2 separate regions of the Homo sapiens genome follow, and region 1 is linked to region 2. The links come from fine-mapping of genetic effects on gene expression. A gene starts in region 2. The other region holds a variant in brackets. All regions are shown on one strand. Distances are from middle to middle.

Region 1 (5,513 bases), 84 kb after region 2:
ATAACAAATGTCCAGTATTACCCACAACAAAGACAAATATCATCAACATAGAACAATAAGAGATATTGATACCCTATGAGCTTGTTACATCTCTGTCATTTTACACATTGAGATCAAAATCCAAACACCAGGAGGCCCTCTGGTAAAAGAGTGCTGGCTGCCTACCCAACATTCTCCCCTAATGTCTTAGTGTCAGAACCCCTTTGTTATTAGGGATAGTCACGTACCCAGCAAATAAGCCACATCTCCCAGCCTCCATTCCAGGTAGGGGTGGGTGGTTAGTGAGATGGAAGCAGAAGTCATTGGGTGGAGCTTTTGGGAAAGCTCTTTAAAAGCGCCCTTTGCTCTTCTCCCCTTTCCTCCATTTTCCCTTCCCTAAACACAAAATAGGCAGCTAGAGCTCCAGTAACCATCTTGTAGCAAACCTAACATTGGAAGCCATTTGTCAAGGTTGGCAGGGCAGAGATACAGCCTCTGAGTATCTGATGACCTGTCCTGCCAGTCCTGGACTCCGAAACATTATTTTTCTTTTATGTGCTGGAAAAAATAAACCTGCTTCTCGTTGAAGCCATTGTTAGTTTGAGTCGCTCTTCCTAGCAGCTGAAGGTAATTCCTTACTAATACCAGCTGGCCTCAGTAGTTTCACAGGTCCTTCTCTTCTAGCAATCCAAGATGTCATCATCCTCTGGCGCATAAGAAAATCCCAGGAATGCACTTGAGGCCCCAGAGCTGCTGGCCACAGTGTCAGGGGTACAGCCAATGGACTTGGACACAGCTTCCTGGGTGAACTCTGGGTCAAAATGCTTCAAGTCAGCAGGTCCTGTCTGTCAATAAAAGCCAATGATGAGAAGAAAACACCGGGGTCAGAGCTGCCAAAGGAGCCCAGATCCTCAGAGAGGGATGTCAGGCCTCTGTGAGTGCCCCATGCTTCACAGTCATCCATACTTGACTGTCACTTTCCTGTGCATTTACATTGATCATTTGATTCCTCTCACCCCCTGGTATTCTGCCTCCACACCAATCGTCAGGCAAGTCAGTTAATCAACATAACACTTACTGAATGCCTACCAGGTACTGTTCGTGGCGCTGGGAACACAGGAGAACAAGATAAAGTGAGCCCCTGCATTCATGGAGCTTACATTGTGTGGGGGGTAGGAGGATTGATAATAAGCATATGTACAAATAGGTAACTTAGGATGGTGATAGGTCCTATGAAGAAGAGAAAATAGGGTGATATGGTGGAGATTGACTGGGGCTGCTTTAGCTATTTTGGAGGAAGACCTGTGAGGGAGATTACAAAAATGTTCACAAATTCTCCATTTCCCATCTAGAGGTGGAGTCTATTTCTCCATTCCTTTAATGTAAGTTAGCCATATGACTTGGTTAGGCCAATGGGACATTACCAAATATGACACAAGCAGAGGCTTGAAAATTGCACATCAGGAGTTGCTCTCTTGCTGTACTTCTAACCCTGATGCCACCATGTGAACAGCCCCAGACTAGCCTGCTGGAGCATGAGAGGCTCATGAAGAACTCAGTTGCCCTGGCTGCCTGCCAACTCCCAGGCATGGGAGTGAGGCAATTCTAGATCAACAACTGCCAACTGTCCCGCTAGCTGACCACAGATATGAGAGAGCTCCACAGAGACCAGCTGGCCTGACTCAGACTTAAAAAAAAACACATAGAATCCGAACAAAATAATTTTTTTTAAGAGACAAGGTCTTTTTTGCCCATCACCCAGGCTGGAGTGCACTGGCATGATCACAGCTCACTATAGCTTCGACATCCCAGGCTCAAGCGAGCCTCCCACCTCAGCCTCCTGAGTAGCTGGGCATGCAGCACCACACCTGGCTAATTTTCTATTTTTCTATAAAGATGGGGGTCTCGCCATGTTGACCAGGCTGGTCTTGAACTCCTGGCCTCAAGCAATGCTAATAGCTCGGCCTCATAAAGTGCTGGGGTTACAGATATGAACTACCATGCCCAGCCAAAAGATTGTTGTTTTAAGCCACCTAGCTTTGGAGTTGCTTGTTATACACCAAGAGCTAACCAATACAGTCTCTCTGTGGAGGAGGCCTGGGTTTTATGAAGTAAGCAGGTGAGGAAGGGGAAGGGCTTGCAAATCTGCTTTAGTGTGCAAGTCGGGCTATGGAGCCAAACAGATCACAGTTTCTAGCTTCTCAATAAGGCTACAAGACAAGGTAGTCCCAGCCCAGCACTCAGAGTTCCAAGATCAGAATGTGCATCCTGGCCCTTATTAGTTGTGTGACTGTAGAAGAAAATGATACTAAAGAGACTTACTGAAGACCTCACAAATGGTAGGTGACAAAACCAGGAATCCAGCTCCGGAGTGTCTCATTCTAAAGTCCATTCATCTCTGCCTAGTATTCCATGTATGGTTCTCTCTCCAGGGTATAAGTTCGACATTATCTTCACTGTCTTTTTAAAATCCCAACGAAAAGAAGCTTTTCTGGTGCCTGGCCCGAGTGTATCCTATCTGATCCAGTGCCCAAAGACAAGTTCATGAATAGGTAATTAAACAAATGAGAAATGTAAATGGTGAATTAACATTGGCAGTGTTTGATATGCAGGCTGTTTCGATGGAAGGGGCTTGGCACCATGCTTTACAGGTAGACCACACAGCTTCACACGCCCACCTCCAATAGGACTCCTTTCATTCACACTGCCACTACCAATTAACATTGCAAAACTAGCACTTTGGGAGGCCAAGGCAGGCAGATCACTTGAGGTCAGGAGTTCAAGACCAGCCTGGCCAACATGGTGAAATTCCGTCTCTACTAAAAATACAACAACAAAAAAATTAGCCAAGCATGGTGCTGAGCGCCTGTAGTCCCAGCTACTCGGGAGGCTGGGGCATGAGAATTGCTTGAACCTGGAGAGGCAGAGGTTGCAGTGAGCTGAGATCGTGCCACTGCACTCCAGCCTGGGCAACAGAGCAAGACTCTATCTCAAAAATATAAAAATAAAAGCCAGGCGCGATGGCTCATGCCTGTAATCCCAGCACTTTGGGAGGCTGTGGTGGGTAGATCACTTGAGGTCAGGAGTTCAAGACCAGCCTGGCCAACATAGTAAAACCCCATCTCTACTAAAAATACAAAAATTAGCCAGGTGTGGTGGCATATGCCTGTAGTCCCAGCCACTCGGGAGGCTGAGGCAGGAGAATTGCTTGAACCAAGAAGACAGAGGTTGCCATGAGCTGAGATCGTGCCACTGCACT[C/A]CAGCCTGGGCAACAAAGTGAGACTCCACCTCAATAAAATAAAATAAAATAAAAATAAAAATAAAAATGAAAATAAAAACTGGCCAGGTGTGGTGGCTCACACCTGTTATCCCAGCACTTTGGGAAGCTGAGGGGGTGGATCACTTGAGCCCAGGAGTTCAAGATCAGCCTGGGCTACATAGAAAAACATCATCTGTACAAAAAATACAAATTAGCTAGGTGTGGTGGCACCCACCTCCCAACTACTCAGGAGGCTGAGGTACTCAGGAGGCTGAGGTAGGAGGATGGCTTGACCCCAGGAGGTGGAGGTTGCAATAGGCAGAGATCATGCCACTGCACATCAGCCTGGGTGATAGAGTGAGACCCTGTCTCAAAAAATAAATAAATTTAAAAAACTAACCATCTTTACTATAAGACAAAGAAATATAAATTAAAACAATTAAGAGATGCTGTTTTTTACTTACCAAATTTGCAAAGTAAAAAACAATAACCACACATGCTTCAGAGTGCAAGCAAGATGAGAACTCTCCAGCAAGTGCCGCTGGTAGGAAGTAGATGGTTCTCCCTTCCACACAGTGAAAAGGTGGTGTGAATCAACAACCTAAAAATGGCCAGGTGCGGTGGCTCACGCCTGTAATCCCAGCACTTTGGGAGGCCAAGGCGAGTGGATCACTCGGGGCCAGGAGTTCGAGACCAGCCTGGCCAATATGGTGAAACCCCGTTTCTACTGAAAATGCAAAAATTAGCCAGGCGTGGTGGCGCATGCCTATAATCACAGCTACTCGGGAGGCTGAGACATGAGAATTGCTTGAACCTGAGATCGTGCCACTGCACTCCAACATGGGCGATCGAACGAGACTCTGTCTCAAAAAAATAAATAAATAAAATAAAAATAAAAAAAGAATCTAAAAAACATTAGCATTGGGAATTCCCCATATGGAATCCATCTTAAAGAAATGACCAGAATTCTGGGCAAAGACATATACTTAAAGCTGTTCATCAGCACATCATGATAAAGAAAAAACATAGTAACAACCATAAGATTGCCATTAGGAACATGGGTAAGTAAATTATGTTACCAACATAAGATGGAAATATTATGCAGCCACTAAAAATTGTATTTATAAAATTTTTTATGACATGAGGAAATTATAACATAGTTTTTAGCCAAAAAAGGAGGAAGATAATATAGATGAATAAACACACACACACATATAGATACTATAAAGTAGGACCTAATTAGGTTAAAAACAAAACAAAACAGGCCAGGCACGGTGGCTCACGCCTGTAATCCCAGCACTTTGGGAGGCCGAGGCGGGCGGATCACGAGGTCAGGAGATCGAGACCATCCTGGCTAACATGGTGAAACCCCATCTCTGCTAAAAATACAAAAAATTAGCCGGGCATGGTGGTGGGCGCCTGTAGTCCCAGCTACTCAGGAGGCTGAGGCAGAAGAATGGCATGAACCCAGGAGGCAGAGCTTACAGTGAGCCGAGATTGTGCCACTGCACTCCAGCCTGGGCAACAGAGTGAGACTCCATCTCAAGAAAAAAAACAAAACAAAACAAACAAAAAAAAACACATAGAAAAGTGACTGGAAGGAAATATGCCAGTGGTTTCCCTTAAGTAGTGAGATAATAAGCATTTCGCCACTGCTACTTTAAACTTTTCTGTTTTACATACATTCCCTTTTTTTTTTTTTTTTTTTTTGAGATGAAGTCTCCCTCTGTTGCCTACGCTGGAGTGCAATGGCATGATCTTGGCTCACTGTGACCCTTGCCTCCCAGGTTCAAGCTATTCTCCCACCTCAGCCTCCCGAGTAGCAGGGATTACAGGTGTGCACCACCATGTCTGGCTAATTTTTGTATTTTTAGTAAAGATGGGGTTTCACTATGTTGGCTACACTGGTCTTAAACTCCTGACCTCAAGTGATCTACCCGCCTCAGCCTCCCAAAGTGCTGATACTACAGTCGTGAGCCACTGTGCCTGGCCAGTGTTTTACATACTTTTTATAAGGATATATGTCATTTTTATTATCAGGAAAAAGTCTATAAATAGAAAAGGATAAAATATCTCTAAAGGGCTTGGCCCTATGTGGGTGTGCTGTGCGAAACAGAGCACTTCACAAACTGTAAAAGTCTCTGCAGCCAGAGTTATTTATTGGTGCTCAAGACAAAGGAGCAGCAACATGGCTGTTTATCCAAGAGCTGCACCTGTAGTCAGGCCCAGTTCTGTCTCTAACTGACTGTGTAGCCTAGGACAAATGACTGAGCTT
Region 2 (5,000 bases):
AACCTTCCTAACTCCAGACACCTGCAAGTCCTCATATCCTAATCCCAGCTGAAAAAGCAGAGTCCAGTTAGTGGTGGCAACCACATTGTGGTCCAACATACCCTACCTTTTGCCCTTCAACGTGCTGGGCTCTGCTCCAGGACAGGGGTGAGTCAGAGACAAAGCGGGAAGTGGGGCACTAGGGCAGAGGAGAGTTACAGCAAGTGGCCAGGAAATGGGCTGAGGGCTGTGGAGCTGCCATCCTTCACACAGGAGGGGTTCCTCCACTGAGCCCCTCATGGGAGAAGTAGCCCAGGACCTGGGGTGGTCTAGAGGCAGTCACTCCTGGAATAACTCTTCCTGAACAAAAAATCAGGATGGCGCCAGGCAAGGTGGCTCACACCTGTAATCCCGACACTTTGGGAGGCCAAGTGGGGGAGAATCCCTGGAAGCCAGGAGTTCGAGACCAGCCTGGGTAACATAGTGAGGTGAGACACAACGCGAGGCCACTCCCGCCCCCTTCCATCTCTACACAAAATAAAACACGCCAGACGCGGTGGCTCACGCCTGTAATCCTAGCACTCTGTGAGGCCAAGGCAGGCGGATTGCCTGAGCAACACAGTGAAACCCATCTCTACTAAAAATCCAAAAAATTAGCCAGGCGTGGCGGCGTGTGCCCATAGTCCCAGGTACTTGGGAGGCTGAGACAGAATTCCTTGAACCCGGGAGGCAGAGGCTGCAGTGAGCCGAGATTGTGCCACTGCACTCCAGCCTGGGCAACACAGAGTGGCTCTGTCTCCTAAATAATTAAATAAATTAGCCAGTTGTGGCGGCCCGTGCCCATAGTCCCAGCTACTCAGCCTGCAGTCCCAGCGGGCTGAGTTGGGAAGATCACTTGAACCTGGGAGGTTGGGGCTACAGTGAGCTATGACAGCACCACAGCACTCCGGCCTGGACTGCAGACGGAGACCCTGCCTCAAAAAAAAAAAAAAAAAAAACCAGGGCAGGGTCTGATAGGCGCCTGAACAGAAAACTCTTCCTGGACATTGGCCTGGGAAAGTGGGGCCTGAGGAACACAGTCCCTGTGCTCAGATCCCTATCCTCAGCCTGAAAGGGCAAAAATCTAGAGGGATGGAAGGCTTCATCTTTAGATGAGGCTATCGTCTAAAGAGGGACCGAAGTTTGGCCGGGCAAGGTGGCTCACGCCTGTAATCCCAGCACTTTGGGAGGCCGAGTCGGGCGGAACACAAGGTCAGGAGATCGAGACCATCCTGGCTAACATGGTGAAACCCTGTCTCTACTAAACATACAAAAAATTAGCCCGACGTGGTGACACGTGCCTGAAGTCCCAGCTACTCGGGAAGCTGAGGCAGGAGAATCGCTTGAACCTGGGAGGCGGAGGTTGCAGTGAGCCAAGATCGCGCCACTGCACTCCAGCCTGGGCATCAGAGCGAGACTCCTTCTCAAAAAAAAAAAAAAAAAAAAAAAAGAGGGAACGAAGGTTATCTGAGCTGCAGCGATCCAGGCAGGGAAGAGGTCAGGACCCCACTGTCCTGTCTCCCAGGCAGGCTGAAAAGCTTGGAGCTCAGGCCCCAGGCGCACAGGTGTAAGACAGGGATCTGGAGCCACAGACCTGGCTCCGGGCTCAGCTCTGCCACTTAAGTCTCTGGGGAAATAAGTAAAATGGAGACCGCAGTTCCTGCCTTTGCCCCAGGGACTCTCTCTCTCCCCCGCACCTTCAACCCCAGCTGCCCAAAACTCCTCGTGGGAACAGGAAGAGAGGTCTCAAACCGAACCAAGCTGGGGCGCGGAACCCAGGTGGGAGAGACAAAAGAGCCCCCAACTCAGCACCCTTCTCAGTCCAGGGGAGAGGGCTTGGGGGACTCTGTGCTCCCCGGAATGTTAAGGAGCAAAGCCCACCCACCAAGTTGACCCAAAACTAGGCTGCAACAAGTGCCTCCCAGGCTCGGTCTCCCACTGGCTGGGACTTGAAGACTCCCTCTCGCTCCCAGGGGTCGCCTCCCTCGCCGGCGAAGGCCCTGCCAGCTGACACCGGCCGGCCCACCCCCATCCCGCAATTAGGCGGGAGACAAAATGACATCATGCACGGCTTGGCCCGGGTCCCAAGAGACCCGCCCGTCCCAGCTCCGAGGCCCAACAGGCCTGGGGAGCCGCGAGGGACGCCCAAGAGCCCCCCAGCTTTACGCGCGCCCCTGCCTCAGAGGGCCCAGGACGCAGCATTTCCGCGGAAACACCCCACCCCCAACACACACACACACCCCAGCTTGGTGGGAGCCTGGGGAGGGTCGGGGGTATCTGGGTGGGGGAGGGGTGAGTTAAAGGGAGGGGGAGGGGCCCAAGCCCTCCCGGCTCGTCTCACCAGCGCGTCCGCCGAGACATCCCCCCGGCCCGGACCGCGCCGCGCTCGCCCGCCCGCCGGCAGAGCCCGGAGCGGGAGCCGGGCCGGGGTCAGGACCCGGGCTGCTCCGGCCGCTCCGGGCCCCGGGCCGCGCTCGAAGGCGTCAGCGTGTCAGCAGGTCCCGCGCTCCTCGCTCGCAGGAACTGCAGTCGCCGCCGGCGCGGGTTGAAGCACTTTTCTATCTCCCGCCAAGCGCGTCGGCGCCGCCCAGTCCTGGCGCGCGGGCGCCGGGGGAGGGGCCTGAGTGAGGGGCGGAGCCAGGGGGCGGGGCGGGGCGGGGCCTGCGGGGCGGCACCTGCCCAGACCCTCCAGGGCCGGCTGCAGGACAGGGGCGGCGGCCGCTACTTCGGAGTTGTGGAGCGGGCCGGGATGTGACCGAGGCCTGGCTCACGTGTCAGTCCGGGGCGGCCCAGGAGTATCCCACATAGCGAAGACCGAGGAAGGGGAGCGAGGCGCGAGCATGGGAGAGCCAGCCAGGGAAAGCGCCAGGGCGGAATCCCCCACGCTAGTCCAAGCCACTACTGGGTCCCTAGAGCCGCACCCTAAAGCGGCTCCTCACCCTACCTGTGCCTCTCCCTGCTTCCTCTCCTGCCTCCAAGAGACCCTCCTTAATAGACTTTATTTTTTGTTGTTCATTTTTCTTAGAGGCAGGGTCTTGCTCTGTCGCCCAGGCTGGAGTGCAGTTTCGCGATCATAGCTCACTGCAACCTCCACCTCCTAGGCTCAAGCGATCCTCCTACCTCAACTCACGGGTAGCTAAGACCAGGCACTCGCCACTACACCCGGCTGATTTTTTTTTTTTTTTTTTTTGAGACGGTGTCTCGCTTTGTCGCCAGGCTGGAGTGCAGTGGCGCGATCTTGACTCACTGCAACCTCCACCTCCCGGGTTCAAGCGACTCCCCCGCCTCAGCCTCCCAAGTAGCTGGAACTACAGGCGCACACCACCACGCCCGGCAATTTTTTTTTTTTTTTTTTTTTTTTTTTAGTATTTTAGTAGAGACGAGGTTTCACCATGTTGGCCAGGATGGTATAGGTCTCCTGACCTCGTGATCCGCCCGCCTCGGCCTCCCAAAGTGCTGGAATTACAGGAGTGAGCCACTGCGCTTTTTTTTTTTTTTTTAAGAGAAGGGGGTGTCTTGCTATGTTGCTGTTGCCTAGACTGGTCTAGAAACTCCTGGGCTCAAGAGATCCTGCCGCTTTGTCCTCCCAAAGTGCTGGGATTGCAGGCGTGAGCTCTTTCCAGAATTTAAAACCATCCTCCTCTCCCTCAGGGTAAATTCCTTACTCCACAATCACATTTATCTGATCTTCCAGACCACCACCCAGCCCTGGCCAAAAGAAACGGCCTCTTTGCCTTTGCCTGAGCCATTACCCAGGGCAGGAACACTTCCTGCCCCTCCCACGTGGCTGATTCCTATTTAATTTGGGGTCCACTGCCCACAATCTGCCTGTAGACTTCTGCATTTCCCCCTTTGAACTGGGAGCATCCTGAGGTCCAGGTGGCCTCTCAATGCACACCAGTATCTCCAGGGCCCAGTAGAAGACCTGACATAAGAAGCCCCAGGCAAAGGTTTGTTGCATTGAATTGTTTACCTTGGGTTTAAACTCCCAGAGATTAGCCCAGATTTAGTGGCTCATGCCAGTAATCCTAGCAGTTTGGGAGGCCGAGGTGGGAGAACTGATTCAGTCCAAAAGTTTGAGACCAGCCTGGGGATCAGAGTGAGACCCTGTCTTTACAAAAAATTAAGAAATTACCTGGCTGTGGTGGTGAATGCCTGTAATCCCAGCTACTTGGGAAGCAGAGGCAGGAGGATTGCTTGAGCCCAGGAGTTCGAGGGGCTCAAGCCCTTGTCATCCCGCCACTGCACTCCAGCCTGGGCGACAGACAGTGAGACTGTCTTTCCTTGAGATTTAGCAAAGGTTTTCTATATTAGATTGACATTTACCAAGTACCAAGGATCAAGTCACACTGGACTTCCTGGGAGCAGTGCTGAGAGGAAGATAAATGAGCTCTGAGACAGGACGCTGAAGAAACCAAATCAAACCCCAGCCTTTTAGCCCCTGTTCAGGCCTCAGAGCCCCCTTCCAGAAGCTGCTGGCCACCTGGGGACAGTCCAGCCACCAGCTGCTGCAAACTTCACTTACCACAGAAGGAAGACTAACTCACATCTTAAGTGCTAGAAGCTTCCACATCACTTAATTCAGGGTTTCTCCCGCCCACTCCCCTTATAAAGTAATTAATGTGGACATGCCCACTTCATTGAAAGCACAGCCTCCACAGCCAAACTTCCTGGGGTTTGAGTCCCAGCTCCACCATTCAGTTGCGGTATCTTAGGCAAATTACTTAACTTTTTTTTTTTTTTTAGACCAAGTCTTGCTTTATTGCCCAGACTGGAGTGCAGTGGTGTGATCTTGGCTCACTGCAACCCCCACTTCCCGGATTCAAATGATTCTCCCACCTCAGCCTCTCGAGTAGCTAGGACTACAGGAATGCGCCAGCATGCCTGGCTATTTTTTGTATTTTTGTAGAGATGGGTTTTCATCATGTTGGCCAGGCTGGTCTTGAACTTCTGACCTCAGGTGATCTACCCGACTCAGACTC

The links. PIP is the estimated chance that this variant, and not a neighbour inherited with it, causes the effect. A credible set is the group of variants that fine-mapping cannot tell apart.
Region 1: its variant is the best candidate, but not a certain one, in a credible set for the expression of MYBL2 in whole blood (INTERVAL, PIP 0.73).

What each region holds. Positions count from the first base shown.
Region 1 is chr20:43,580,163-43,585,675 of GRCh38, reverse strand. It overlaps SGK2 (serum/glucocorticoid regulated kinase 2), which reads right to left. Exons shown (of 13, transcript NM_170693.3): 13 at 49-824. The coding sequence ends at 660. Among named protein-coding and RNA genes, the nearest start is that of IFT52, 8.0 kb to the left of the region's middle. The variant C/A (reference allele first, on the strand shown) is at 3,239.
Region 2 is chr20:43,664,663-43,669,662 of GRCh38, reverse strand. MYBL2 (MYB proto-oncogene like 2) reads right to left here and starts at 2,549. Exons shown (of 14, transcript NM_002466.4): 1 at 2,360-2,549. The coding sequence starts at 2,379. RefSeq lists enhancers at 1,644-1,693, 2,460-2,754 and silencers at 2,344-2,723, 2,460-2,754.